6 separate regions of the Homo sapiens genome follow, and regions 1, 2, 3, 4 and 5 are each linked to region 6. Evidence: fine-mapped expression QTL. A gene starts in region 6. Each other region holds a variant in brackets. All regions are shown on one strand. Distances are between the middles of the regions.

Region 1 (5,197 bases), 69 kb before region 6:
AGCACTTGGCTTCAACGATAACATCGGGATTCTTCAGATTTAGCAAGAGGACCCTGATTGTTCTCATCTAAATGTCTTCATTTAAATATAAATCTCTGAAATGGGGATTATTAGATACCTTTCAAACAGTAAGGTGAGGGGACCAAAGCCGGGTAAAGTGGCTGTCAATGGTCAACAGGAAGTAGCAGCTAGAAAAAGCCAGAAGCTCTTGTTGGTCTCCTCACACCATAACCCCCGTGAGGGTAGACACTGAGTGCTCATGTCAGATGTGTTTGAACCAGAGTGACTCCATCTTGAATAGGGTAAAATGAGGCTGAGACCTACTGGCTGCATTCCCAGGAGGTTAGGCGTTCTCAGTCACAGGATAAGACAAGAGGTCAGCATGAGATACAGGTCATAAAGAACCCACTGATAAACAAAACAGGATGCAGTGAAGAAGCTGCCAAAACCCACCAAAACCAAGATGGCTACAAAAGCCACACCTGGTCATCCTCACTGCTCATTATATGCTAATTATAACACAATAGCTAAAAGACGCTCCCATCAGTGCCATGACAGTTTACAAATGCCATGGCAACGTCAAGAAGTTACCGTAGATGGTCTAAAAGAGGGAGGAACCTTCAGTTCCAGGAAAATCCCTGCCCCTTTCCCACGAAACTCATAAAAAGCCCACCTCTTATTTAGCATATGATCAAGAAATAACCATAAGTATACTCAGTCAAGCTGCCCATGCCACTGCTCTGCCTATGGAGTGGCCATTCTTTCTTCTGTTTCATTTTTTTTTTTTTTTTTTTTGAGACAGAGTCTCGCTGCATCGCCCAGGCTGGGGTGCAGAGGCGTGATCTCAGCTCACTGCAACCTCCACCTCCTGGGTTCAAGCGATTCTCCTGCCTCAGCCTCCCAAGTAGCTGGGATTACAGGCACGCACCACCATGCCTGGCTAATTTTTGTGTTTTTAGTAGAGATGGGGTTTCACCATGTTGACCAGGCTGGTCTCTTACTCCTGACCTCAGGTGATCCGCCCATCTTGGCCTCCCAAGGTGCTGGGAATACAGGCGCTCTGAGCCACCATGCCTGGCCCTGTTTATTTTCTTAATAAACTCGCTTTCACTTTACTCCATGGACTCACCCTGAATTCTTTCTTGTGCAAGATCCAAGAACCGTCCTTTGGGGTCTGGATGAGGACCCCTTTCCAGTAACACTTGGGCAATGGCAGATGAAAGGAGAAGAGGCCACAGACAGAGGTCTGGAAAAGACGCACGCAACGACATGCAAGGTGTTTTTTCTATTAAGTCATCACTGAACAAATTCCAAGGAGAAAAAGGTAAAATGGATGCAGGAGGATTAGAATGAAGCACTACTGCTTGTAAAACAAATCAAAACTAAGAACCTAGGAAACGATAATAATGCTGTTTAAAGACTTGAAGGAAATCTCTATTTCCAACAACGTCAACAGAAATCAAAGGAGAATATATTTCACTTTTCAAGAGTGAAAGATAATAAAAGTCAAACCCTATACAACATCAATCCTGAGCCAAATCCTATCTTATCTCTACTTTTTTCTTCTCCTTTTCAACGTGTGTAGCTAAACCAGGTTGCAATCTAGAGCTGGACTCGTCCAGAAAGCCTGGCAAACATCCACAGCTGTGACAAGATGCTGACGAGCCTGTTGCAGTGGGGTCTTGATGCTTCCACTGGGGAGGAATCAGGAGAATGTAAGTAAAAAGCAATGAAACTTCTGCAAATAATTAAGTAATTCACATCCACCCCTTGAAGAGAAAATAATTCCTCCCTTGTCACTGTGACAGCCTCGGCTGGCTGCCCAGCTGAGAACACCCAGCAAGCACCCTCTCAGCAAAGCCAGGTGGGGAGGGGAGAGGTCAGCCACTGCAGCCTGCAGGCTCTCTGACCATGGGCACCTCCACAGCAGACCCTCCCAGCCACCAAGGACATCTGGCCCAAACACAGCATGAAGCAGAAGTGGCTTCGGCCATATCCACCACCTCTGTGCAGGCTGTCACACAGAACCAACCCCACCCCAGCCTACGTGAAGCTCCATGCTGGAGCCCCAGAGCAGCGGGACAGATCACTGATTCCCTTCTATGAAGCATGTGTGCCTCCCTGCATCCACTCAGGCTCCAGTGAAAAGCACTATTTGGCTCCCCCAAAGCTTATTGGGTGCAGGCGGGGGTGGGAACAGTCCACACGCCTCAGCTCCACTCCCCAGGGAAATGAGTATGAAAACAGGAGCTCCAGCAGGAAAGAATCAGCCTTTTGGTTCAAGGAAACGGTCTCTTAGCTTCGGAATAGCCCACTGACTATGGAAAAATGCTCTCGCCCCCAACCACGCAGGGCCTGTGTGTCTGGCTTCGCTGTCCGTGAGGTGAAAGCATCCGTGAAGCAGAGTCCCGGCTGAACTGCGGGAAAAGCAAAATGCACAGA[C/T]GGCCGGCTCTTCGGTCTGAGGGTGATTTCAACCTGTTCTTGTTGAATGACCTTGGACCAGATAAATGCCATTGAGCTTCCCGTACAATGGCACTAGCAGCAACCTCTTCCCACTCGCCTCTCTCCAAGTCCCTGTGAAGCTACAAACAAGCGGTGTTTGGAAAATTCTAATAATAGCATCAAAGCGGAACGTTGCCCCCGTTATTTCTGAAGTCCTCTCTCAGACCCAGCGCTCCTGAAGGGGCGCGGCAGAGCAGAGCCGCTGCGGAGTGTGTGATCTGAAGACAACGCCTCCCTCATTAGGGCTGGACATATTCCGACAGGGCAGGCTGTGGCTCTGGATGGGGGGCAGTGAGGGGGTGCATGCATGTGCTGGAACTCACATCCGGGAGAGAAAGCGCGGCAGACAGGCCTCACGAATGAATGTGTGTTTTGAAACATTAGGTTCGATGTCTAAAGAGTACAATTCAACAACTCAGGCCACCAGGAACAGGCCCCACTCTCTCCTGGAGCTCTATGGCAGGGTTATCAGAGGATGGCTGGTGCCAGACATGTGCTGACAGGGATCTGGGACAGTCAGACCAGAAGCAAATGATCAGGCGCGACCCAATCAACGTGGCACTAAAACAATGCGTGCAGGTTCGATCATAGTTACCTGACCCACCCCCAGAAGAGTGAAAACCTAAATTTCCTCTGCTCTGTCACCCTCCAACTCCTGAGAAGATGGGAAGGAGGTGACGCTGACTAAGTGCCTCCTCTATACCCAGGAAACTCTGCTAGGGCTTACACATGCAGCTCATTCAATTCTCCTGACAACGCTCCAGAATATATCCTTTTATCCTCACTTTACAGAAGAGAAAACTAAGGATCAGAAAGAGAGCACTTGGCCAGGTACAGCAGCTCACGCCTGTAATCCTAACACTTTGGGAGGCGGAGGTGGGGAGCTCGCCTGAGACCAGGAGTTCAGGACCAGCCTGGGCAACACAGTGAGACCCCCATCTATAAAAAAAAAAAAAATGAAAAAGTTAGCCAGGCGTGGTGGTGCACACCTGTAGTCCCAGCTACTTAGGAGGGTGAAGCAAGAGGATTGCTTGAACCCAGGAGGTCGAGGCTGCCACACCACTGCACTCCAGCCTGGGTGACACAGGGAGACTGTGTCTCAAGGAAAGGGAAAGGGAAAGAGCATTCATCTGAGATCCCTCAAGTGATAAATGGCAGAGACTGAATTCAAATCCAGAGCCGAGCCTGCCAGACTGCAAAGGGCCCCCCACACTCAGCTCCACAAGGGAGCAGGAAGATGTGCATGTCATTAAGATCATTTTGTGCCTCCACCTCCCCGCCGTGTGATTTCCACACAGAAACCTGATTCGGATGGCTTCTGTGGCTCATGCCTGACAATTCACCGAAAGAAAAGTAAAAAGCACCTCAGATGAATTCAGAGTTTCTCTGTTAGCACAACGGAAATGAGATGAAGAAAGCTGGAAAATGGTTTCTCTTCTGAAACATGCATCGCAAAGTAGAATTACAAAGAGAAAATAGAGCCACAGGAATCGGCCCAAAATGAAGATTCTGTATCATTAGAGAATAAAATATGGGTATCCATGACTGTCTTCCTCTACACCCCTCGCATCCCCACCCCCGAGTCTAGGACACTGTCTCTACCATTTCTCACCCCCCATGAGAGTCAGGACCAAACACCAATTCCAGGATGCATGGCTTTTCCTGTTCCGACATCTCTGAAATGGGGAATGCATCTTAAAATTGACAAAATGATGGTGCATCTTACAACCCTTAGCACCTAAAGGCTCAAATTAATACATTAATATTGCTTTGAAATTATGTGAGGGCAATGCTTTAGATGATTTGAAACACTCTCAGATACTTCCTCTCATTTAAGCCTCACAACAGGCAGGCCAAATAGGTTTTTAGTTCACACTGATCATACTTAAATACAGCGGAGAAACTGGCTGACACAGACAACTCAGTGATTTGTCTAAGCAAGTGGTAGCACCAAGACTGGCCTTGGATTTTCTGAGCACTGGGTCCACGGGGAGGAATCCAATACTGAAGTGCAGATGACACGGGAGAGATGCTGGTGGGCTTGCCCCGATACCTCACCTGCTCGCTGCTGTATCACCCCACGCCCAGCTCCTCTCAGTCACACAGCCAAGCAGGCGAAGAGTACAACTGTGAAATGTCTCATGAGCTGATACAGAAGGAGTTTATAAATATTGAGCACTACTGGCCTTAAAAAAAGCTGCTCCTCTCCACCAGGTCTGGGTTGGATACCCTCCTCCTGGGCCCAACCCAGAATGAGGGGAGGTTTGAGAGGGATACACCACAGATAGATAGATACAGCTTCTCTGAAACCAAAGAAATAACAAATGGTTGTCTCACCTGAACAACTGGTTAGGAATTGGGGGAAGGGGATAAAACCAACTTAGAGCTGCACTTCTCAAAAATACCAAATAGGCCAGGTGCAGTGGCTCACACCTGTAATCCCAGCACTTTGGGAGGCCAAGGCGGGCGGATCATGAGGTCAGGAGATTGAGACCACCCTGGCTAACGTGGTGAAACCCCGTCTCTACTAAAAATACAAAAATTAGCTGGGCATGGTGGCATGAGCCTGTAGTCCCAGCTATTCGGGAGGCTGAGGCAGGAGAATGGCGTGAACCCGGGAGGCAGAGCTTGCAGTGAGCTGAGATTGCGCCACTGCATTCCAGCCTGGTGACAGAGTGAGACTCTGCCAAAAAAA
Region 2 (5,197 bases), 83 kb before region 6:
AAGCGGTTCAAAGAGGAAGCTACCTGAGAGTGGACGCAGGCTGAGGAGTGTCCCACTCACACAAAACACGAGTCTGTGTAGGAGAAGGATTATCTAGTTCTCTCATAGCTTCTTCTTATTTCCCTCCTGGCTATGCACTATCCTAGCAGCTTTCAAACTTTTTTGCCAAAACCCATAGTAACAAATAAATTTGATGTAGACATCCATCCCCCAAACCATGTATTTAAATATATACGTTATATAAATACATGCACGCCCATCCATCCACATACGGTGTCATAAAAGGGTACCTACTCTTACATGTATGATGTGCTCCAGTATTTTCTATTTAATTATTCATCATGAATACTGATGTTATTCTCCTCTATTAGTTTCATGATCTACTGAGTCACAACTTACAATTTGAAAAACCTTGCCCTCATCTTTGAAAGAGTCAGGTTCGAGATTCTAGCCAAGTGTCGGATGCGCTTACAGGCCATGGTTCCAAGCCCGACTGGGGATTCAAAGAAGTAAAAGGGAACCCATCAGCCTGAGCCCCCTGAGAGCTTTACTTTTGTCAGAGGCATGTGAGCCAAAGCAACTCCATCTTGAATAGGAGTTGGGTAAAATGAGGCTAAAACCTACTGGGCTGCATTCCCAGACAGTTAAGGCATTCTAAGTCACAGGATGAGATAGGAGATCGGCACAAAATAAGGTCATAAAGACCTTGCTGATAAGACAGGCTACAGTAAAGGAGCCGGCCAAAACCCACCAAAACCAAGATGGCCACAGGAATGACCTCTGGTCGTCCTCACTGCTACACTTCCACCAGCACCATGATAATTCACAAATGCCATGGCAATGTCAGGAAGTTACCCTATATGGTCTAAAAAGGAGAGGCATGAATAATCCACCCCTTGTTTAGCATATCATCAAGAAATAGCCATAGAAATGGGCGACCAGCAGCTCTCGAGGCTGCTCTGTCTATGGAACAGCCATTCTTTTATTCCTTTACTTTTGTAATAAACTTTTCACTTTGCACTACGGACTTGCTCTGAATTCTTTCTTGAGCGAGATCCAAGAACCCTCTCTTGGGGTCTGGATCGGGACCCCTTTCCTGTAACACTGGTTCATCTGTAGTTGAAGCCATCAATGAACTGAGGAGCTCTGCTTTCCTTCCTTAGCTTACGTGGTGGGCACAGGGACATGTGGGGAGATCCTACAGAAGAAGGCACTGCTGTAGAGAGAATCAGAAATTCTCCTCCCAGGGCTATCTTGGGGAGGCCGGGTAGTCAGAAAATCATTGCTTCTTCAGGAAACAGCACTGTTTACAAAACAACTAGACCATGCATTACTTCGAGGGCATCATCCTGTGCCCCAAAGCCACCTTACATATCTGGCTTGGCCATCATCCTGAGCTTCCTGGAGGCACTACGTGGACAATCCGACCCTCATCTTCTACCATCACCCTGTCACGGGTGTGCAGCGCTGTGCTGCGATGTCAACGGTGGTCAGAGCAAGTGACACAACAGTGCGTTCTACTGGGACACTTCTCCAGGGGCCTTCCCTCCAGGAGGACATCCCGGAGGTCCAGAAAGCTGCAGGGGAATGGAGGGAAAAGACAACGGTGGCCACGGTGATCGTCAACTGTAATCATTATGTTGGCAAAGCTATAAAATCAAACCCAGGACACCACACAAGATCCTGAACATATTTCCACAAGAGGAAGAATATTGTGCTCCAGGCAACCCAGGTAGTGCACCTTAAATAGGAAAGAGTTCAACAAGTCACACAAAGTTACAGACACCTGCATGCCGGGTGCACCAGCCTCGTCCTGAGGAGTTGAGAATGGTGGCCCTGGCTGGGAATTCTCTAAGTTGCTCTGCCACTGGGAAAATAGATTCCTTAGGGAAGCAAAGAAAACGATGGATTCCTTTGTGCTCAGAAGACAGCAGGCTTCCATCCAGAAAACTGCACAGTCAGGGCCAAGCAGTCAAAGCCCCCATTCTGAACGCCAAATCCCTGGGTGGGAAAAGGAGTGTGTGTCTGTGCCTCCCGCCATCCTAGAAGGCCAAGGAGAGGCTGAATGTCGCAGCGCATTCTCTAATGAGGAGCCAGGCACTCCAACTGCTCCACAAAGGTGTCTTAGACAGAATTATAAGTAGAGCTTAAGGTCTAAAAACAAACAAACAAAACAAAAATGCTCTACCAAAGAGATGAGACTTTCCTTTCAGAATCAAGTCACACATCCCTCCCCAATTTCCAACTCCAACTCTAACAGAGACATTCACTTCTCTGCAAAGGTTGCGGACAAAAACAAAGCGGGCAGAAAGA[G/A]GAAGTGGAAGGAGTTGTTGTACTATGTCTTTTTAAAGCAGCTGTTGGAAACCGTTTCAAAGGTTGAAAAAGGATTTTTGTTTTATCCAAATATAAGTTTCTGAGAAGAAATATGACACCTTGGGTGATGTATGAAGTCATGCCTTTGATTCCAAGCCTGTCAAGCCTCTTCTGAGTGTTACATCTCAGGCTTCCTATGGTGAGGTAAAGAGGGAAGCTTCGGTACAGAAAAACGGCAGCACACGGAGGTAGGCAGCTTTGCAGTCACCAAGCAGGCGATGGCTCTCCTGGCCCCAGGGCGGAGCCAGTGCATGTCTTTTAAGCCACTCATGGGCTCCGCATCCAGGAATGGAGAGCACCCTCCTAGGTCTCTGCCTCAGCAGCCCCACAAGCCCACCCAGCCATCCTCACCCTGGGGTCCATCATACTGTGTGGCTGTCAACCTCTATTATGGTATAATTAAGAAAGACACCAACGGTGTTGAGAAGCGTTTCTGAGAATTAAATCAAGAGTGAGAAGCCCTCAGAGGCACCCCATGTGTCAAGATCAATTGATCTGATGGCCACCGGAGAAGCCCTGCTGAAACAATTCGGCAAATCTGCCCAGAGACGGCTCTGCCAGTCTCTGGAGACAGAACTCTTAAAGAGGCAGGAAAGACCAGAGGGAGGTTTTGCAGTTATTCACGCCATGCTATTCTAAAAGTGAGGAGGGCTTGGCTGTAATTTCCCACTCTGGACATTGAATGATTCAATGTATCTGTTTATATTTACATGGCTGAGGCATAAAACAACAAAACAAAAAGCCCACTCCCACCTCATTAAGCCCACCTAGGTAACACTGTGGCAGGACGCACACAAACCAATCAGGCGGTTTTTAAAAACCCTCAAAATCTAAGGTCCCTCAACCGCTTGTTGCACTCAATACATGCCCCTGTCTACAGTGGCTCATCCTAGAATCACTACTACAGAGAAGGACTATGTTTAGGCAGAAATCTTGCTGCCCTCAACGCCAGACCTAAGAATCACTGCAATAATAGGATGCTCAAACCACCAAGCTATTGGCAGCCTGTAAGAGAAACACCCTATAAAACAGCAAGCAGGCAGCAACCATCACCCACCCTCCAGGGATGTTCCTGAACCCAGTGCTCAACCACACAAGTCCAATCTAGGTGGCCTCGCAATGTCCTCCCACCCGCTCCAGGAGAGACAAGGTCAAGACCATAAAATGACTTCAGGAGCCATAAAAGCAGAAGCAGCACCTTCTGAAATCAAGCAATCAAGAATTAAACAAGTAGGCTAGGCTCAGTGGCTCACGCCTGTAATCTCAGCACTTTGGGAGGCTGAGGCAGGTGGACTGCCTGAGCCCAGGAGTTCGAGACCAGCCTGGGCAATATGGAGAAACGCCGTCTCTACAAAAAATGCAAAAATTAGCTGGGCGTGGTGGTACGTGCCTGTGGTCCCAGCTAGTCAGATGGCTGAGGCAGGAGAATCATTTGAGCCCAGGAGGTCAAGGCTGCAATGAGCTGTGATCACTCCAGCCTGGGTGACAGGGCGAGGCCCTGTTTAAAAAAAAGGTGGGGAGGAGTGGGGCTGGGTATGGTGGCTTATGCCTGTAATCCCAACACTTTGGGAGGGTGAGGTGGGTGGATCTCTTGGGCCCAGGAGTTTGAGACCAGCCTGGGCAATAGAGCGAAACCCTGTCTCTACTAAAAATACAAAAATTAGCTGGGCATAGTGGTGCACACCTGTAGTCCCAGCTACTCGGAAGGCTGAGGTGGGAGGATCACCTGAGCCCAGGGACATCAAGGCTGCAGTGAGCTGTGATCACACCACTGCACTCCAGCCTGGGCAACAAACCTTGTCTCAAAAACAAAAATAGAAAGAAAGAAAAAAAAAGAAAACAAAACCCCTTGAAAAGGCTGACCCACACCCTGGAGTTAACTCCGGAAGGCGAGTGAGGGACCGCTAGAAGCAAGGCGTGGAGCCGCCTCTGCAGCAAGGACAGAGAGCACTTGTGTTAAACGAGGGCTTTCCAGGGCTGTGGGACCTGTTGGATGCACCCAGGTTACCTGTGACTTGCAGATTTAGAAAAGGAGTCCACAGTGAGGAAGGGACTGTGCTGAACTACTCCAGCCCTGAAAACGCCCCCTTTCCCTATCAGGTTTCTGGCTTCAGCTCTAGGAGGAAAATAACGCAGTGCCACAGGGCTCTCCCTCTGAGTGCACTGTGCACGCCCCGAGCTGGCCACTGATCTGGTTGTGCCGGTGGGCAGCCCTTCACCTAAAGTCCACCTCGTGGCTCTCAGCCACGCAGCGCCACTGTCTTTTCAGATTTGAAGCTTTAAAGCGGGATGGGGAAGAGTGTGGGCAAGTGGGAGGCATGTGTCCAGTGGGGCTGGACACACACACAGGTATGTAAGAGGGCTGCACCTGTATGTAATAATACAGTGACTATCCTCGAGGTTGCTGAGTGATCATAGTTTAGGAAACTAACTAAACAGGGACAGTGTCTGGGGACAGAGCGTTTGCCCTGAAGGTGTGGACGTGTGCTAGGAGCATCTACCACTGCCAACCTCCAACAAGCAATCATGCTTAGAAATAGCAGCTAAAGACGAGCTCTCTTCATGAAGCCTGCAATGCCTTCCAGGCTGGGAGCCAGAGGTGACCCACAGGCAGAGCTGAGGCCCTCACTCAGGAGACAGAAGCTCTCCTTCAACGGGAAGAGGGCAACAGGGCAGGAAGGAGGGACTCTTGGAGGAGGAAGGCAGCTTCTCTCAACAGTGACTGTTTAGCCTCAACCACTGCAGGGGAATGTGGCCACACCACTAGCCAGCCACTGTTCGCAGAATCGAAGAGTAGGCCAGGAGTGGCCCTGGCCTGAGATTA
Region 3 (5,197 bases), 160 kb before region 6:
CATTAAGCTTTGTGTTTGCCATAGATGTTTTACAGATGCCTTTCATCAGGTGAAGGAAACTCCCTCACAAGTGCTGAATTTCACTGCTTTCCCTCCTGCATCCATTAATATGACCTACAGCTATTCTCCTTTAATTCACTGAGAAGATATATTACATTATTTTCTGATATTCAATCATTTTTACATTCCTAAAACAAACTCTTCTTGTATATATATATATATGGCTGTATTATATAGCATATATATATATAGCTGTATTATATAGCATATATAGCTGTATTATATAGCATATATAGCTATATTATATAGCATATATATATATAGCTGTATTATATAGCATATATATATATAGCTGTATTAGATTTGCTAGTATTTGGTTTAGGATTTTCTGAGTCTATAACCATAAATTGAACAATTTGCTGTTCTTATACTTTCTTTTTCTGGTTTCATAGCTAGATACTACTGAAGGAAATAGGGTAGCTTTCCTCCTTTTCTATTCTCTGAAACAGTCTGGGTTTTACGCAAACCCATTTGAGCTTTGTGAAATTTTGGGAAGGCAAATTTTTTATTGCTGAAAATTTCTTTTGATGGTTTGCACTTATTCATTTTTTTATTTCTTAAGAGACTTTGGTAACTTAAATATCCCTAGAAAATTATCAATTTCATGTAAGTTTCAAATTTATTTACATAAAAGTATACTTTTAATTTTCTTATGATCTTAGTTATATCTGCTTTTTTACACCTAATATTAATGTTTCTTCTCTATTTTTGTTAATCAGCATTTTTAGAGATTTATATTTTTTAAAGATGAAGCTTTATATATACTCTCCACTGGATTTTTAGTTCATTAATTTCTTCTTTTACCTTCCTTATTTCCTTCCTTCTGCTTTCTTTAGGTTTACACCCTGCAGTTTTTTCCACCTTCTTCAGTCACAGAGTGATTGATTTCAGCTACCCTACATAAGGAAAAATGGTTAAAAATCCAAGCAAATTCTACAGCTGGAGAAACACAGGCAGTTTTCTCAACCATGAGATGGGTGAGTGAAATGGGGAGGGGGAGAAATGTCCGCGGGTGCGATGACTGGCTCCCCTAACTTTGGGAGAGAGTGGCGAGGCCCCTGCCTCTGAGCCAGGTCAAGGCACCTGCCTCCGCATGTGTTCGGAAAGATGGAGCAGCCCAGGGAGCCCTGCAGCCACGTGGACCTTTCCTTCTCCAGCCAACACAGCACCTGAAAGTCTGCGAGTCTCCATGTGCACCCATCAGCCAGGTGAGATGAGCCGAGAGAGCCTGTGGGGGCGTTAAATTAGCCAGCAGGGCCAGAAGTTTGAAAAATCAAAGGAACATATTAAAATACAGTCTGTTGCTTGCTAGCCCATTTCTCCATTCATATACAGATATTCGGTGGCAGGGGGAGGGTGTTAGCACCTCAGGATGCTGGAATCAAGGCTCTGGACACAGCTGGTGATGCAATAGAGGCGGTGAATGCCTTCTGTTTCCTTGCCCTCATCCACAGAAAATGCTTACGCCATTCCCATTTCAAGGGAAAGAAAAGGGCAGGAAGGTCTGTTGTTTCACTGACCATCCTGGCAGCCTGATGCAGCTGCCCATGGACACAGAATGGACACAGAATGTCCATATATGCCTCTGCTGTGAAGGTGGGGCTCCAGCCAGGCTAGAGCCAACCGCAGGCTGGGCGCATGCTCCTCATTCAGGACTCTGATTTGCTTCTGCGGTAAGGGCAGTTGCTTTAAGGCCACAGACTTCTGATTATCACAAAGCTCTGACAGTTTAGTGAGCATAAGACTCATTCATGGAGCTTATGAAAATGAACATGCCTAGGCCCTGACTGCTTCTCCCATCCCATTCTGAATAAGTAGGTCTGGGTGATACCTGGGAATCTGAATTCGAAAAGGCCCCTGAAGGCAAGGCTTATACAGGTTGCTCTTAGACTTCATTTTAAGAAACACACAGAAAAGTGAGAGGTGTTATTAGTGAAACAGTTCTCTAATGTGGAGCCATAATTAGACTCATCTGGATAACTTGAATTTAGACCTGGAACTCTGGTATGGACCATATAGCACAGAGGTTAAAAAAAAAAAAACAAAAAAACTCTGCCTCCTCCAGATTTTGATTTCCCATTCCTCCTCTCTACCACAATCTGACCCCCTGTGGTCACCATACATGAAGTGGCCCAGCCCACGCTGTGTTCCTCAAAGTCTACCATGACTATGAAGCCTAACACAGAGAGAGTCAAGCCTAAGCCACTGGGAATAAGGCCCAACATGACCAGGCTGAAAAGATCTAGCCCAAGCTGGAGACTGGATCCACCACAAGGCAGAAGGGGCCACGGGAAACAGGCCCTCCTCAGTCCAACCCCAAACTGGGCTGCGGATGCATCTCTCAACCTCAGGGCACTTCCACTAGGGCCCATCCCAAACAAGATGTTCAGCTTCACATTTTCAAGATGTGTTGCTATGGTGTCTACAGAAAGTCTAGGCAGGCTACTGGATAGAATGTAAACTGGAAATGGAAGCCAAAAAAAGGAAAATGGAAAAAAGTTCATTAGCTGTTGTATAATGTTCATTTAATTAAAACATACCCTTAATAATCCTCCAAACAGTCATAATGGCATAATATTCCACCAAATCCACTAATTTCTGATTAGTCCTAATAGCTACAGAGTTTATTTCTATAGAGGTCTTTCAAAACTAAACAGAACCAAATCCTAAGACATTAAAAAACCTCTGCAGGACCTCTGTGAAATCAAGCTTCTTAAAAATCTGGTCAACAGGAGAT[T/C]TGAATTAGCTCAATTAATAACTTTAGGTTTGTCTCACTTCGAAATTATTCGTCTAAAATAGCTTTCTTGAATACCGCAGGCTTCTGCATTCTGCAACGTATAGGAGTCGGAAGCATGTTCTAAAACAAAATGTTTATCCTCCCTGTGACACAGGAAACTCAAGCCTATCGTATTTACTGTACTCCCTTTGAAGTCCTCTAATCTCATTGAAAAGCCAAGGGTTCCAGAGGCAAAAAACATGCACACACACTCAGGCCAAGCGGAGAATCCAAAAACACACTCTTCGCTCACCAAACACTCCACGCTTCGGCACCGGCCACAGAAAATGCTGCCCAGAATACGTGAGTATTCTCCAACAGAAGGGGAAAAACATTAGGTTTCCCCTTGAAGCTTTCAGCAAGCCACTGTTTGATGGAATAAAAATGTTTTTTCATTCAAAGAGCACCATTTGCCCTTTAGTGCCTCCAGTTTTACAGACACTACATTTTAGCTGAAAACTTTTCAAGAGTCAAGAGCTATTGAAAGTTGAGAAAATAACAGCCCTGGATGAAGCCGTCTGAACTCTCTCGTCATGCCCTCCGAGGGCTGCACTTCAGCTGCCAGGTCCCACTCACCATTTAAGGCTAGAGTCATTTCAGAGAGACTAAATTATTATTGTCCTTTAAACTTTCATTCCTCCCGATGCCAGGGGACAAGCTGCCTTTTCTGGATGGAAGCTCACACTGCTCATCAGACAATGTGAACACTGCACATTCCATTTCTTCCCTCTTGCTACTCCCCTGGGACAAGTGGCACCCTTGGTCCTGCTAGAGTAACTCCAGTAACTCCCTCTGCCTCCTGGTGCCCACCATCGTCCTCTTGGATACGTGAGTTCTGGTTTCCAAGCTGAGGGTTTAGTTTTTACTTCCATTGTTCCATGAAGAGATGTGCTTTCATTTTTATCTGCTCTGCCTGTCTCAAAGTGGTGAATCCTTTAGAGCACCCTTCTTAGAGGTTATTCAGGCAGTTGGTTTTCTTTCCTACCCTACTCTTGCAGTTCTCCCCACAAAAGCTGGGCCAGATAATGGAGTCTGTGGGACCCCTGAGCAGTTCTGATTGTCCCAAGTGGACAGGAGAAAAGCTTAAGTTCTGTGGAGGGTGACATTTTAGGACACCACTCTTTTCAGATACACTGAATTGCTCTGTTTTGGCCTGTGGTTAAAAAGACGAACTTTTCGGCTAGGCACAGTGGCTCACGCCTACAATCCCAGCACTTTGGGAGGCCGAGGCAGGAGGATCACCTGAGGTCAGGAGTTCAAGACCAGCCTGGCCAATATGGCGAAACCCTGTCTCTACTAAAAATACAAAAATTTACCCGGTGTGATGGCGGGTGCCTGTAGTCCCAGCTACTCGGGAGGCTGAGGCAGGAGAGAATCGCTTGAACCTGGGAGGCGGAGGCTGCAGTAAGCCGAGATCACACCACTGTACTCCAGCCTGGGTGACAGAGTAAGACTCCATCTCAAAAAAAGTAAATGAATAAAATTAAAAAAAAAATGGCTAAGAGTCTATTAAACTTTAGACCATCAGGTTGGCTTAAAAATCAAAATATATGTGTTACAAAAGATAAACCTAAGACAAAATGGCATCCAAAAAAGAAAAAAAATCAGTAAGATACAAAAATGTATCAAGAGTAAGTGAAATAAAGTAGGAGATTAACATTTATGCAAAGCAAAATGTATGGCAAAAAAGGAAAACTTGTTCAAGGACAGCCTGGGCAACACAGTGAGAGCCCATCTCTATTAAAAAAAAAAAAAAAGAAAAGAAAAACAAATAAAGTGGGGTAATTTTATGTCAATAAGGGTATAATCCATGAATATATATCTTCTAAGCCCCTCATGCTTAGAAATAAGCAGAAACTCCTAGCACTGTAATGTTGAGTTTCAAATGCTTTTATCAATAACAAAGGTTTTGAATGTAATCGATCAGGTTGGTTGAACATGTATATTTGAATTTGGAAATGAGTATAGATGTTACTAGCTTTTAAAAAATACCCATCAAATATTCATAGAAATGAGAAGTAAAGATTGCAGCCTCTGGGGGCAGGCTGTTGTTTAGACCTCACCACAGCCTGGTTAATGGGGCAAGTTCTGTTTCTCTAACTATCAAATCTTAGTAACAATAACAACAGTACCTATGCCTCATAGGGTTGCTGTGAGAATTAAATGAGTAATGTGTGTAAATTGCTTAGCATAGCACCTGGAACGAAAATCTCAATTAAAGGTAGCTACATCTCATGCCCAAAGTAAAACCCTCCATATATGCAAAATAGTAAAATTATAAAGTTGTAATGTCTGACTCCACAGCAATAAAGTCAGGAGAAAAAAATCTCCAATGACCTAAGTTTAAAAAGATAAAAAGAA
Region 4 (5,197 bases), 210 kb before region 6:
ACATCTCTTTTAATCTCGCCTCCATTTAGGTGGGCTTTTTATGGAAGCTCTCCAATAGACAATTCTGCCAACTTGAGAGCAAGAAGGACAGTCTCAGGGAAACTCCGCAGCGAATGTGAATCAGTGGCTTCGGTGCCGCGCAAGGGTTCTTTCCACGCCCTTCAGGAGGCTGGCACCTTGTTGAGACTGGGTCTTTATTCCTGAAGAGGAAATCATGGCTACTGCTCTACAATGCTCCTTATAATTGCATCCAGAGTCTGGTTCAAATCTGACTCACCCGTGGGTGTCACCTGGGCTGAGGACCAAAAGGTCTTCTCTGTAGCCCCTGTCCAGACCACCCTAGCCTGGGACCCCAGGAGCTCAGGCAGAAACTGCTAAGCGAACACTCCTCTTTGGAACCCTAGGGGAGACGACAGCTTTTGGAAACAGGATGTATGTTATTTGCAGGCACAAACAATGCATAAAATCAAATACAGCAATTGTATTAGGAGATTGCTGAGAAATAGGCAAGAACTGCTGAGAAGAGAGTTTTTTCTTCTCTTCTGTAGGTAAGTCCATGAACAGAAGAGTGTGTCAGAGGCATTTTATTTTTCTGGTTGAATATTCTTGACAATGTGAAGTTATACCGCAGAATCCAATCACTGAGTTGGGTTGGATATTTCATTCTGAAAAGCGTTGCAAGTCTGACCCTCTCTGCTCCAGTCAGGAACTCCTGTCATTCCCCACCCCCACAGCCTTCCCCAGCATTCACAATGCTCACACACGGGCCCGCCTGCCAGTCTGTCCTCTTCCTCCCAGGCTGTCCCCATCAGGGGATCTTGCTGCTATGTCCTGGTGATGGGACTTCTCAGACGCTGAGCCCCTGCCGGCAACGCTCTCCCTCGCCAAGTCCGAATCCCACAGAACCTTTGAGACACGGCTCCAACAAGGGTGCAGCACCCGCCAGGCCGAGAGCCTGCATTTGGCTTGTCCTATTTGTCACCATTTAACGTGTTTCCTCCTCAGCCTGGGTCTTCTTTGGGACTATCAGCACAACACAGGTTTTCAACAAATAGTTACCGAATAAATAAACCTCTCCCTGTTGCCAGAGCAGGCACCACACACGGGATCCCTAAGGGGCTCCAGTGGGTGCTACAAAACGATGCTGAGAGTTCCTTTAGTCTTCTCAGATGGCAGCAAATTTTTGGTGTCCCAAATAATAGGGAAAGAAAATGGATTACATGTGGTCTCTAGAAGGTTTCAGACACTCATTTGGGCCAGTCCTGCCAGTGGCCAACCTCCTACTTCACCCCAATGTCAATCAAAATTGCTAAATAATTTGGGCCAGGTGCGGTGGCTCATGCCTGTAATCCCAGTACTTTGGGAGGCCGAGGCGGGTGGATCACTTCAGGTCAGGAGTTTGAGACCAGCCTGGGCAACATGGTGAGACCTCGTCTCTACTAAAAATACAAAAAAGTAGCCGGGTGTGGTGGTGGGGGCCTGTAATCCCAGCTACTCGGGAGGCTGAGGCAGGAGAATCACTTGAACCCAGGAGACAGAGGTTGCAGTGAGCCAAGATTGCACCACTGCGCTCCAGCCTGGGCGACAAAGTGAGACTCTGTCTTGAAAAAAAAATTGTTAAATAATTGGTCAAGGTTATGTTTCCTTGAACCCTTGTGGGGCTGTTCAAATGTAGGTACTTTTGCTTCTGTTGTTGAGATGGGAATCTTACTTCGTTGCCCAGGCTGGTCTTAAACTCCTGGGCTAAGCGATCCTCCTGCCTCAGCCTCCTGAATAGCTGGGATTACAGGCACGCACTACTGTGGCCTGGCTCAAATGCAGGAATTTAAAAGGTACCGAAGGTCAGGTGCAGTGGCTCACGCCTGTAATCCCAGCACTTTGGGAGGCCGAAGCTGGCGGATCACTTGAGGTCAGGAGTTCAAGACCAGCCTGGCCAATATGGTGAAACCTCATCTCTACTAAAAATTCAAAACATTAGCCAGGTATGGTGGTGAGTGCCTGTAATCCCAGCTACCTTGGAGGCTGAAGCGGGAGAATCGCTGGAATCACTGAGGCGGAGGTTGCAGTGAGTCGAGATTGCGCCGCCACACTCCAGCCTAGGTGACTCCGTCTCAAAAAAAATAAAATAAAACAAATAGTATCTGAAGAACCTCAGAGACGCCTGGATGGAACCGAAGAGCCCCAGGTAACTGGTAAACAAGTCTATAAATCTTAACTACTTGAAAAACTGTAAAAATATTTGTCCCCTGGTTTGGAGCACAGGGTCTGGGTGCGAGTGCCAAGGGCTGGCTCCAGGCAGGTACACAGGAAGGACGTGACCTTGAGCAGGCTAGCAACTTCCTTCACCAGCTTCCCCTGTGGCTGTAAAATGCAAATGTATTTAAGGGCTTGGCTGGGTGCCTGGCACATCATAAACACTCCACAAATGATAATGATTATTATTACAAGTAAGAATAACCAACCAAAGGGCACAGCAATAAAAGCGCATCTGCAAAAGGTGATAAGAAACAGCCACTGAGCAGGAGCTGCAGAAGGCTGACCCCAATCCCAGTCCCCACACCCACCCCACCCAGCCCTCACACACCAGGACAGACTCTGGCCAGCAAAGAGCGGTATCTAGAAAGTATCTTCTCTTTATTTAAGTTAAACAATTTTCAAGGATGGTTTCCATCTATAAAATGGACAAAGTACAAGCTCTGTACAGCAGTTCTTTTTAAAAATCAACTGGAAAAAAAAATTACCAAACTATATTTTGAATTTGCAAAACATACTCACAGATACCATCATCTGAGCTTTTATGAGGACATAAGAAAGGACCA[G/C]CACAGAGAAGACAACTAACTTCGGCACGCTTTGCTCGAAGGGCTCTTAGGAAAGAATTCTGAGTTTTAAAAACAGGAGTGGGAGGGTGAGATAGTCCTGATGATTAAAAACTAACGCAACCGCAGTAAGTCACTTTGGCACACTGTGTCATGTAAACATAGCTCACCGCAAAGGACCCCTCCCCGGCCCACCCCTGCTCTTGACGCCCGGACCATCCAAAGCCGCCTCCCAGCTCAGGGACAGGACGCCGCCCCCAGGGCATGGGCCGCACAAGGGTCTGGGTAGACACGTGGGATGATAGGAAGGCTGAGAGGGCCTAGGGGTGCGGGCGGGGTAAAGGTGAAGGGGCAAAGGATTCGTCAGAAAACGTGATTTTAAAACGAGCCAGATTCATCCATTTCCCTCCTTACAGTAGTAGCAGCTCGCAGGTCACAGGGTCTGACAGAAGAACCTGGGTGCTGGGGGCTACGCACACCCTGCTCTGGCCTGCACTCCACAGCCTCGCACAGGTACCTAAGGGGGTTTTCCTCAGGCTCCCCCCGAGCGCCCACCGTGAAAGACAGAAGCGTGCGGAGTTACTCCAGCGTGGGGGCACGCTGCCCACTCACAACACATCTGGTTGCATGGCAGGGGAGGCGGGAAGAGAAGACCTATAGGGCAGCCCTCCAGCCAGGCTTCCACCTCGGGGCCGCTGTCCTACAGTGCACACATGTGGGGCTCCCGCCGGGGAGGAAGACACACAGTGGCCCCTTTCATACAAGACACAGGGAGGAGCATGGCACCGGCACAACCTCCCAGGGTGGCTCCTAACTCCAAGGCCGCCGCTGTCCCACCGAGGGGCCTGCAGGTGTGCCTAACTGACGCTTTTCTCAGACTGCCAGGCCGTGCCAGCCTCTCTGAGACTGAGCATCTGTGTGTGCGGCGCTGGAGAAGGCGGCCAGGAGTGGAGGAGGAAGCAGGGCACCGACCACAGAGTGGCAGGGGTGACGAGGAACATTCCTGAGCACCCAGGTAGAAGCCAGGCACCTCTCCCCGTTATGACTTTCAGTTCATAACTGTCTGTGGTTTAACAGGACCCCAAGGCTCCTGTCTCCCGCCCTGAATCCTCAGTGTAAATGAGCAGGTATTGTTTGGTTCTGACCCTTCCTAATTCTTTCCCCAAAGCCCCCTGAAGCAGTCATCTTGGCCAGGCGGGGTGTGGGAGGGAGCTGCGGGCGGGGCAGGACTCGCTGCCTGGCTGGAGCTCCCCAGGCCAGCAGGTGTGCAGGACTGTGAGCCAGGCCTGTGCCCTGGCTGACGGGCTCATCCCTGACACTGCTGGCCATTAATTCTGAAGGCCCAGCGTGCAGGGCTCAGATCACAATGAAGCCAATACTAGCGTGTGACAGCTGCCTGGCATCATTGGTCTGCCCTGTCGCCAGGGGGCAGCGGTATTGCTGGCTCACACAGAGCTATGGGGTATGTCTTATATTCCTTAGAGAAAAGAAATTTAATGTAAAAAGACCCAAAGTGATATCTGTCAAAATAAGTAACCGCTCCAGGTTCACAGATACGCACAGCACGCAAGGTGGATTCTGACGCACAGTAGGGACTCTCAGGCTGACGCCCAACAGGGATGCCGGGGCCGAGGCCGGTGGTCTGGAGGAAGCCCCCCAGCTGGCCACAGCAGTAGCACCAACTGGCTGATCGGGCTCCAGGGGACAAAGGCCACCTCCTCCCTCTGTGAGAAACTGGCCCCACCGGGCTCTGGCCCCTTCTCCCGGAAGCTGCGAACGGCTTTGTGGGGAATATACAAGATGACGATGATCTACAGAAACCATAGGGAACTGACCGTACATTCTTTCTCTATATAGCTTTATATTTAGTGTCCCACCATAGAAAACTTCATCCTCAATATAGCAAGTACATGAGGTGGAGGGGAGTCTGGCCCAGGAAGACACTTGCGAATGGAGGAGCAGAGAGAGGGACTATTGACGTAAACCTGCCACGTGACACGACTCGGCTTTGTGGAAACCATACGTGATTTCGAAGGGATTGAAAATGGAGATTTCAAGAGTTCTCCTCGCTCCCCTGGGGCATGTGTGCCCCCTCCTCCCGCCCTGTCCTCAGCTCGCACGCATCCGTTCAGTTGCTTCTACCACTCCCCAGTCGGTTGTCGCTGGGTGTCACTCAGTTGCGGAGCCGGCAGAAGTGAAAGCTGGAAGGAAGAGGGGCGCTCCGGCCTGGGGAAGGGGGCCCGGCTGGGCTGCACCGAGAGGAGGGGGAGGGCAGTTCTCGCTTCTTGCCGCTGCTGTGTCTGCACAGTCGTCCGTGCCTTGCCGAAGTTTGACTTTCAGACCATGATGGAATACTGAGGTATATTAGTTTCGCGGAAAGT
Region 5 (4,527 bases), 200 kb before region 6:
GCAGAGGAGGCCGGAGCCTGTTCCAGGCAGGGCCACAGCAGGGACTGGAAGGTGAGGCTTCTGACCATCACTCTCCATTTGTCCCACTCAAAGGGATGAACACCCCTTAATATCGAGGGGCAGCAAGGCCCTTTCCAGTTTAAAACCCCACAGGGACTCACTATCCACTTCCATCCCCTTCCTCTCTAAGCCCCAGCACGCTGCAGTGGCCCTCCCCTCCGTCTGTCTGTCTGTCTTTCTATCGGTCTGTCCCATGACCACCTGCTGCACACCTGTATGACACCGGCGCTGTCACAGAGCCAGGCTCCCTTTCTAGTGGGGAACATGAAAGACACACAAATAAATGTATTCTGCAACTTCAGGCACTATTATGTGCTATGAAGACACTGTTTTTTTCTTGGTTCTTGGAAACAGAGGTAAGGAAAGGAACAAATAGTGTTTAAAGAAGCCTCACTGTCTAGTATCTGTATCATGTTGGAACAAATAGTCCGTCATTAGAAAAACATTAAAAGGTGAAGATGCAGCCCGGTGTGGTGGCTCAGGCCTATCTATAATCCCAGCACTTTGGGGGCCAAGGCGGGAGAACTGCTTAATGCCAGGAGTTCAAGATCAGCCTAGGCAACATAGCGAGACCTTGTTTGTACTAAAAATAAAAAATAAGTTGACCGGGTGTGGCAGTGCATGCCTGTGGTCCCAGCTACTTGGGAGGCTGAGGTGGAAGGATTGCTTCAACCTGGGAGGCCGAGGCTGCAGTGAACTGTGATTGTGCCACTGCATTCTAGCCTGGGTGACAGACCGAGACCCTGTCTCCAAACCGAACTGAACCGAACCGAACCAAACCAAACCAAACCAAACCCTAAAGATTCTAGCATTCAGACCTTATACAACCACTGGCGGGATGCACCATCTCCAGCTCTCAGCATCAGCAGAGGGGATGCAGAGGCACGGACACCCGTCTAGGAATCAGTGAAGACACCTTCACCTGTCTGAAGACTTCCTCCTCCCCTAACAGGGAGGGAGGCTTGGGCAAGCCTGCTCACTTCCCGGGTCTTCCATTTTCTCACCTTTTAATTAGTGTTCCTCACATTCTACTCTGTGAGGAATCCTAGGAAAGACGGATTCTAGGTCAAATGAATTTGGGAAACAGACTTTGTGCTGTGTTTATCTCTCGGAAATTCAGTCTATTAAAGGCTCTGAAGAGTCCTAGAGTAGAAGCACCTGCTTGGCCTGTGCACTGTAGCATTCCAAACACGGCATGGAGGCAGCCCTGACCCACCCAGCCCTGCCGGCCACCTTCTCTGGGGAAGGCCACCCGACCCTGAGTCGAATCCCAACATTCTATGATGCTGTCATTCAACATGGGTGAGTTCCAGCCAGCTCTTCCAAGCACCCACAGGCACTCACGTCACCCATACTCTAGGACAGTGTGACATCATAAAAATAATTATTTGGTCTCTGGCACAATCACAAGGCTCCTAAAACCCTTGTCATTTCCTGAGCCACAGGGGTTTTAGGAGCATCTTTCATTCTAGTGTTTGGTCTTTGACCCCGGTTCCCAACAAACAGCTCCTACTCCCTTGGAATTTATTGGGTGATGGGAGTGTCTTGTTCTAATGAAGCAACTCTAATGGGCTCCTGGACGGGGCTGGTCACCAGAAAGACCAGGTTATGCTGAGAAGCTTGAAACCGTCAGTCCCCCGCCACCCCATCCTCTGGGAAGGGAAGAGGAGCTGGAGATCATGCCCATGTGATGAGGCCTCCGTCAAAGTCCTTGCACTCCGGGATGTGGCTGCCGGACATGCGGAGGCGCTGGGAGAGCGGCACACCTGGAGAGGGCGTGGAAGCTCCAACACCCCACCTCCACACCGCGTGCTATGCATCTCTCCCGTCCAGCTGCTCCTGGGTTTCAGTCTTTCCTAATGAACAGGTAAGCCACGAAGTAAACCGTTTTCCTGAGTTCTATGAACTATTCTTGCAAATGAATGAATTCAAGGCGAGGTCGCGGGAGCCCTGATTTACAGTCAGACAGCAGGTGACAACTTGGACTTGTGACTGGCATCTGGAGTAGAAGCATCTTGTGGGAGGAAGCCCATAACCCGTGGGGTCTGTGCTAACTCTGGGTAGGCAGTGTCAGAACTGAGTTGACAGGCATGACACTCAGTGTCCGCAGAGAATTGGAGAATTGGAGAATTGCTTGGTGTGGGGGGAAAAGCCCACAGGGCTGGTGTCAGAGGTGAGAAGTTTTGTGAGAGTATAAAGGAGGAAAAGCAGCTTTTTTCCTATTCACTGGGTCACAGAGTATGGAAGGTGTGGAGTGTAGAGAGGAAGCCGTGTGTGTTTCCCATAGGCAGATGGCGTTCAGGATGGAGAGGGCCAGGAAGAAGCACATTGTTCCGTCCCTGCACTCACAGGGGCTGGGGACACCACCAGGATGTGTGAAACTGTGGTACACAGAGACGCCCACTCACAGTGAAGAGGAGAGTCCTGAGTAAGAGGGACAACGCTGGTATGGAGAAGGGTTCCAGACTGTCCCTGGCAGCAGGTGTTGGCGGATGCTGGATGGTCTGCTGACACCCAGTTAAAGATCATGTCTGAATGTTTTTACAACCTCCTTGCTATTGTGTGCTTAATTACTGTAAAGCAGACTTTACACAGGATTCCAGAAAAACTAATTCAGCTGGGCAAACAACAGAGCTAGTTGCCGTTTTGTTCTTCTGTTGCATTTCAATTATCTGAATTTGTAAAATAAAGTTCATAAATATTTAAGAAATGCTTTTTTGAGCTGCCACTCTTAAAAGGCATGGCCATTAATTTTCTCATTTCCTGTGTGTCTGCCAAGGCTCAGCCGGAAACCAGATAACAAACCTCACTCTTCCAAAGCA[C/A]CAGGCCCTATTTTCAGTTGGGAAATATTACTTACCCTCTCGTTTCTCATCCGTGTCACACGCTATGCAAAAAAGCATCACTTTCTATCGGTTCAGAGAGGACTCACGCACAGTGGGTTTGTGAGCTGGAATATCTGAGCCGTACTGTCTAATGTGCTAGCTACAGGGCACCCAGGGCCATTTGCATTTAAATTCACCAGAATGAAATGAAATTAAACTTGTAATTCACACTAGTCATATTTCAAGTGCCCAGTTGCCACAATGTGGCTGATATACTGAATGGCAGATGTAGAGCATCCCCATCATAGCACATGGTTCTATTGGAAAGTACTGATAGTAGCCCACTGGCCCCAGACTGGCCCAGGCAGTAAGGTGCTCCCAAGCTGAGGGTGTAACATACATCATGTCATCCTGCCATCTCACATCACATTGTATGTGCTGATGTGTTCATCTTTCCACTAGAAAACGCTTGCTCCTCAACTCCTATTTTTTAAAAATTTTTATTTATTTTTTTGAGACAGAATCTCACACTGTCACCCAGGCTGGAGTATAGTGGTGCGATCTCGGCTCACTGCAACCTCCACCTCCCGGGTTCAAGTGATTCTTCTGCCTCAGCTCCCCGAGTAGCTGGGATTACAGGTGCCCACTACCATGCCCAGCTAATCTTTTGTATTTTTAGTAGAGACGGGGTTTCACCATGTTGGCCAGGCTGGTCTCGAACTCCAGACCTCGTGATTCACCCACCTCAGCCTCCCAAAGTGCTGGGATTACAGGCGTGAGCCACCGTGCCCGGCCCTAATTTATTTTACATTATTTTAGGAACATGGTCTCACTCTGTTGTTCAGGCTGGAGTGTAGTGGTGCAATCACAGCTCACTACAGCCTCGACCTCTTGGGCTTTAGCAATCCTCCCATCTCAGCCTCCTGAGTAGCTTGGACTACAGGCACAGGTCATCACAACTGGCTAATCTTTTTTTTTTTTTTGTAAAGACGGAGCTTCCCTATGTTGTCCAGCCTGGTCTTGAACTCCTGGCCTCAAGCAATCCTCCTGCCTTGGCTTCCTAAAGTGCTGAAATTACAGGTGTGTACCACTACAGCAGGCCAAATCCTCATTTAGAATCACTTGTTAGCTCTTAGAGATCTGGTGGTGCCCTCTGACCCTAGACAAATTAGATCAGGCTCTCTGGGCATAGCACCTGGCATCAGCATTTTGTAAAAGTTCTCTGGGCAGGCTGGTTGTGGTGGCTCACGCCTGTAACCCCAGCACTTTGGGAGGCTGAGGCATGTGGATCACTTGAGGTCACGAGTTCGAGACCAGCCTGGCCAACATAGTGGAATCCCGTCTCTACTAAACATACAAAAATTAGCCGGGTGTGGTGGCACGTGCCTGTAATCCCTGCTACTTGAGAGGCTGAGGCAGGAGAATGGCTTGAACCTGGGAGGCGGAGGTGGCAGTGAGCCGAGATTGCACCACTGCACTCCAGCCTGGGCAACACAGCCAAACTCCGTCTCAAAAAAAAAAAAAAAGCCTGGGCAACACAGCCAAACTCCGTCTCAAAAAAAAAAAAAGAAAAAAAAAATTTCTCTGAGCAATCCCAGGATGTGGCCATTGGAGGGGGACAGAGAGTGAGCAGGGAGTCAGCACT
Region 6 (5,197 bases):
GGCAGGGCACACAATGACAAGCCTGGGCTGGGCTGCTGAAGCAGCAGAAATCCTAGTTGGACTCCCCTCAGACGATCCCTAAAGCCCAATACTGCAGCCTAGTACCCTATGAAAAACGTCAGGATGTGCAGAAACTGGCTAAATATGGAATAAAAGCCCTGACTTGAACAGTATGAGGCAAGAGAAAAAATATAGGTCCACTTATCTCTAAAAAAACTATAGCTAGCTTTTAAATTCTGCCTTTCTGTGCATGGCCCGCTATCTTTTTTTATGTCCATACTTTACAAGCCAAACAAACCACATTTTTTTTTTGGTATGAGAATGAAATAAATTTAGAGACACTTCTAGTGTCTAAATCCATGGAAACAATTGGGGAAGAAAGAAGACTACACGATTTTCCTATACATCAGGCATTCGTGACAGCAGGGCTCTATTTACCTCCTTCAGAAACCATCTTAAGGCTTCTCTTTAACCCTGGGTCCACCACACGAAGTTAATGAGTCTTCCACTGCAATTTCAAAAGCTATTGCATTTACACACCTCTTCCTCAACCGACAAATCACTAAAGCATCCTAAGGGGTAGCATTAAATTTTATGGTTCGTTGACAGAAAGAATAGAATCCCAAATCACCAATCCATGTGTAATTAATTGTTCATTTCCCCCACTTTTTCTACCTGGTCTCCGTACCTGTCTATATTGCCACCAGGAATTCTTTAAAAAAAACAAAACAAAACAAAACAAAACAAAAAAAAACAAACTAAGAATCACACACTTCAGGAGTGTCTGAAGACTTCTGCATGGAAGACCCCTCACACCATCCAGGAACTGAAGCCCACCAGAGTGAGGAATCAGCCTCCGGGAGGCGAACGAGCACGCTTGCTCTTTCTAATCACGTGTACTAATGAAAGTGGCAGACTAAGGAAAGAGAAACGCCAAGGGTGGCTTATGTGTTTGGTTTTCTTTGCATGAAAGGCAGAAAGCTTTGCCAGGTCTCACCAGCACACCAGGCTATGCAGAGTGGCCAAGGCACAGTTTACCGGGAAGCAAAGTTTTAAAAATCATTCCAGTTTTACACGATTATATCTCTGAATGGACTGCACGGCTTTTGCTGCCTGCATGCTCTTTGCTGTTCAAGAATAAACCAAGTCTTCGCGTACATATACTACCTATACCATTTTTTACAAAAACAACGCTAAGAGTACAATGTCAGCTCAGAAGCTAGGCCGATTCAGCACGTGGAAAGAGGGCTTTATTTCTGCCCTTCTAGATAAAACAAATCCACGTAATTTACCAGAAACCACATAAGGCACCCATTCCACCTAACATCTTCGGCTATGAATGAATGAATGAAGCAAAGAAAAAACCTCTGAAGCAGCCAAACCCCGGCGTGGACATTTAGGGGTCTGACTTCAGAACTGAAGTCTGTTCATCTAGTTAGTTCCCTCTGGCTTGTTTCAGGATACCACTCTCTTGTTCCAACCCAACCACCCGTAGTCCATCTCCATTAACTCAGAATTTTCTGGGTTTGCGGTGACACTAAATGTCACAGTAACGAGGGTTACAGGAATTCGGAAAAGATAACGCTGCTTTCAAAGCCGAGGAGCCAGTAAAACACTACAAACGTCCCCTGCCGGCATGCTCCAGCACACAGCCCGACGCCCTGCTCTCCCGGCCGGCGCTCGGCCGCAGGACCGCGCTGTCCCGGCTCCTCTCGGCGCTCACCATCCTCCCGAATGCCCAGGGCCCGGCCGTCCGGAGCGGCGGCACGAGGACGCGGAACCGCAGAGCGGCTCACACGGTCCCCACAGCCAGATCACTCGGCCCCTGGAGCATGTTAAAAACACAGCCACAGAAGAGGGATTCTCCCTGAAGCGGGGAGTGGGGATGGAAAATGCAAGCGCAGGAGGCCACGTCCGGCTCGCGCGGGAGGGCCGGGGGCCGGGTTGGGCAGAGGGTAACGCTGGGGCCGCAAGGGAACGGCCGGGACTGGCCTCGCTCGGGGCGCAGGGGCGCACTGGCCCCTGGCTCGCACGGGCCCTGGGGCTTTACTTGGCACGGGAGCGGCCGCCCCTGCCCCCCAAAGGTAAAGGGCAAAGAAGGTGGCAGAAACACGGAACCCACGCCCCGCGGAGTGACAGGGGGAAAGGGACGAGGATTTGCAGCCGCTGGTATCAAAGGGCTGAAAAGAAACTTGGACTCCTCTCTCCTGCTGTACATGACGCGTTGGAAAAGCGGTCGCCTCTCTCTCCTCTCCTCCCCACCCCCTTTGTGTTTCCCAACACCCCCATCCCTAAACTTCCAACCGCAGGGGATGGGGCTCCCGGCGGCCGGACAAGACTCGAATTACGACGAGCAGAGAGAGGGGCGACGTCCACGAGAGGGGGCAGAGAAAGGCTGCGGGGGCCGCCCTTTCGGAGCCCGGCGTGCGCAGAGGGGCCGGGTGCACCCCTGCCCTGGGCACTCGGCGCGGAGGCCCGGGACGAGGGCGGGCGACGCGAGCGGAGGTCCGGGCGGAGGAGCGCAGGGGCGGCGCGGAGAGGGCAGGGGACAGGGGCGCAGGGTGGGGGGTGGGCGCAGGGGCCCGGCCGCGGCAGGGCGCTCCACTCACCTTCCTGCCGGCGCCGCCGCCCGCGCCCCCGGCCAGCGCAGAGCCGCCCCCCGAGTACATGTAGTAGGCGATGCCCAGCACCCACAGGAAGGCGAAGCAGAGCAGCATCCGCGAGCGCCGCCGCATTCTCCCAACTCGGCCGCCGGCGGGGCCGCCGCTGCTCGCGAGTGCTGCCTGGGCCGGCCGCGGGCGCGGTGGGGGCCGGGGGAGGAGCGGAGGAAGGGGAAGGGCGCGGCGGCGGCTCCTCCTCCCGCGCGGTGCTACTGCTCGGCGGCGGCGCGCACTCGGCGCCCGAGCTCCGCCCCGGGCCGGCGGCGCCGCGCGGCACCAGAGCAGGAAGCAGCGGCCTCGGAGGCGGCGAGGGGGGTCAGGGAGCAAAGGGCGACCAATCGGCGGCGGCTGCGGGGGCCGGGGCGCGGGCCGCGGGAGGGGACTGCCGCGTCTCCATGGCTGCAGCACGCCGGGCTCCGCCGTGAGGGCCTGGGCGCCGCCCCGCCCCCGGCCGCCCGCCCCTCAGCGTGCTCCCCCCGCCGGCCGCCCCCTCCCCCGTGAGTGACAGGTGGCTGCCCCGGGACCCGACTGGAGCGCGCGCACACGTGGGCAAAGAGCCTTGCTCACGCACACGGGGCCTCTCGATTACGGGGGCGGTAGTGGCCTCGGTGCTTCCTGCCCAGACTGTCACCTCTTCAGCCTTGGTCTTTGGGGCCACCTCAGACCCTTAACGGGCTTGCTCTTATTGGCCAACTGACCTGAGTTTTTGGTGCAAACCGCCCGCTTGAACCCGACTTTGCTGCTGCTTGCTGCAGTTTTCTCACTAATCTTGCAGCAAAACATTCCTGACCCGCTGGTATCGATTTTATTTATCTATATAGGCAGATGTGGAGGTTTTGAGTTGGTAGGAACTGAGAAGGTAATTTTCAAAAGAACATTTTTCTGTGGGTGACAGAGCTATCAATGGTAGAGTTGTTCTTTTCAATAAACACAAAATGAGGAAGAAGGAAAGCAATAATATATTGTTTAAAATCTTTTCTTTCTCATTCGTTGCGTTCTTTAAAAAGCACATTAAGCATCTTTAACGATACAAGAAAACGATCTGTCTTGTAACATAATCTATGTAACCTTGGTGATGCCCTTGCAACACGCAAAGCTTCCAGTGTTCCTAAGAAAGACAGAAATTTTACTTAGAACTTGATATATTAAATGTTTTCAGGAGCTTCTCGGTCAGAGGATAATGGCAGCTGCCTGATATAAGTCCGTACCCATATCCTCAACGAAACAAAAACAAGCCTTCAGCATTACTTAGAGAGAATGCCATGAACTGAACATTAAATTACTTAAGTAGAAGAAAGAAAAGATACCAAATTCCAACTGAGCTCCCTCCACTATTGCCAAGGACTTAAGTGAAGTACAGGGTTGTCACCTCTTTATAAATAGAAAGTCCAACACCAAGAACTAAAAACTGAACAGAGGTCAGGTGCCTTATTGATCAAGGGAAGAGATTTGAAAGAAAATGGGACAAGAGGTGAGAGGCTTGAAGGAGCCTTGTTTCTGGGAAAAAGTCAGATAAATACGAAAAGAAGATAATGTCCTTCAGAGGCCTGACAATGAAGGGAAAGAAGGAAGTCAGAAGGGAAAATTACAAATCCTGCAGAAATGAAAGAGAAGACAGCCAGTCCCCTCCCCAAACACCAACATTATCTATTAAAAACTGCATTTCAGTACACAGATAAAAGAAAACACTCTTGAACCGGGAACCCTGCCTCAAAATGCCTAGTAACAGAAAAACATCAAATCAACTGCATTTAAAGATTCTGCAAAAAGAAAACAGAAATCACATTTCTGATGATAAAAAATAAATCATAACATTTTCGCTGATGAAAACCCCCACAATAAAAACCATGAAGCATAAGAAAATTGTAATACCACATGTCAAACTGAACAAAGTGTCACGTATTTGTATACACATACACACACACACACATATCTAGGATAAGAAATTTCAAGAACTGAAGACAGACTAGACAAAAATTAGGAAGAAATGCAACAAGGGTTGAGCAAATTCAAGAAGGAAATTGAAAGTAATGACAAAAACTATCCCAGAAACAAAGAATAATTACAAGGTGTCCAAGGGAAAATATATTCAAATGAAAATATGTAAAAGGACACTGAAGAATGGCAAGAAAACAATCAAGAAATTGAAAATAATATAAAGATAGAAGTAAAAAGGTTCAGAGAGAAGAGGTTAAAATAAAAGCCAGGAAAGGAAGACCAAAATACATGTTAAGTGGAGTCCCTAAAGTACAAACATTAAACAATAAAACCTAATTAATATTAAAACTATAACCCCAGAAAATAATCCAGGAATAAGGGAAAATTTAAATGTACATGTCAAAAGTGACTTCCATGTACCTTGGGAAATGATCTGGAATTATCAACTCCTAAATATATTTTAGTAAAACGATTAGATTTTAAAGGCAAAAAAGATCAAATTGCTTATAGAGATAAAAATTTATGCTGGCATCAGACTTCTGAACAGCAACATGCAAAGCCAGGCAACAGTGGAGCAGCATTAACAAGGAACAAAAGTG

What was found.
Region 1: its variant is fine-mapped to the expression of GALNT2 in cerebellar hemisphere (GTEx, PIP above 0.99). The same link has a PIP of 0.9 or more in cerebellum.
Region 2: its variant is fine-mapped to the expression of GALNT2 in whole blood (INTERVAL, PIP above 0.99).
Region 3: its variant is fine-mapped to the expression of GALNT2 in esophagus mucosa (GTEx, PIP 0.99).
Region 4: its variant is fine-mapped to the expression of GALNT2 in blood mononuclear cells (TOPMed, PIP above 0.99). The same link has a PIP of 0.9 or more in T cells, fibroblasts, lung, monocytes and whole blood.
Region 5: its variant is fine-mapped to the expression of GALNT2 in whole blood (TOPMed, PIP above 0.99).

The regions. Positions count from the first base shown.
Region 1 is chr1:230,134,123-230,139,319 of GRCh38, reverse strand. All of the region lies in intron 1 of GALNT2 (polypeptide N-acetylgalactosaminyltransferase 2), which reads right to left. Among named protein-coding and RNA genes, the nearest start is that of GALNT2, 69 kb to the right of the region's middle. RefSeq lists enhancers at 1,402-1,902, 1,903-2,403. The variant C/T (reference allele first, on the strand shown) is at 2,443.
Region 2 is chr1:230,147,590-230,152,786 of GRCh38, reverse strand. All of the region lies in intron 1 of GALNT2 (polypeptide N-acetylgalactosaminyltransferase 2), which reads right to left. Among named protein-coding and RNA genes, the nearest start is that of GALNT2, 83 kb to the right of the region's middle. RefSeq lists an enhancer at 2,336-2,565. The variant G/A (reference allele first, on the strand shown) is at 2,314.
Region 3 is chr1:230,222,588-230,227,784 of GRCh38, reverse strand. The region is part of intron 3 of GALNT2 (polypeptide N-acetylgalactosaminyltransferase 2); the gene reads right to left. Among named protein-coding and RNA genes, the nearest start is that of GALNT2, 160 kb to the right of the region's middle. RefSeq lists enhancers at 737-1,236, 1,237-1,738. The variant T/C (reference allele first, on the strand shown) is at 2,798.
Region 4 is chr1:230,279,541-230,284,737 of GRCh38, reverse strand. GALNT2 (polypeptide N-acetylgalactosaminyltransferase 2) reads right to left here. Exons shown (of 16, transcript NM_004481.5): 16 at 2,616-5,197. Among named protein-coding and RNA genes, the nearest start is that of PGBD5, 140 kb to the left of the region's middle. RefSeq lists an enhancer at 2,279-2,438. The variant G/C (reference allele first, on the strand shown) is at 2,820.
Region 5 is chr1:230,269,070-230,273,596 of GRCh38, reverse strand. All of the region lies in intron 14 of GALNT2 (polypeptide N-acetylgalactosaminyltransferase 2), which reads right to left. It overlaps LOC124904542, which reads left to right and starts at 1,487. Exons shown (of 5, transcript XR_007066928.1): 1 at 1,487-1,927; 2 at 3,872-3,962. RefSeq lists an enhancer at 4,353-4,527. The variant C/A (reference allele first, on the strand shown) is at 2,883.
Region 6 is chr1:230,064,819-230,070,015 of GRCh38, reverse strand. GALNT2 (polypeptide N-acetylgalactosaminyltransferase 2) reads right to left here and starts at 2,778. Exons shown (of 16, transcript NM_004481.5): 1 at 2,610-2,778. The coding sequence starts at 2,735. RefSeq lists enhancers at 969-1,048, 3,403-3,562 and silencers at 1,963-2,022, 2,463-3,272.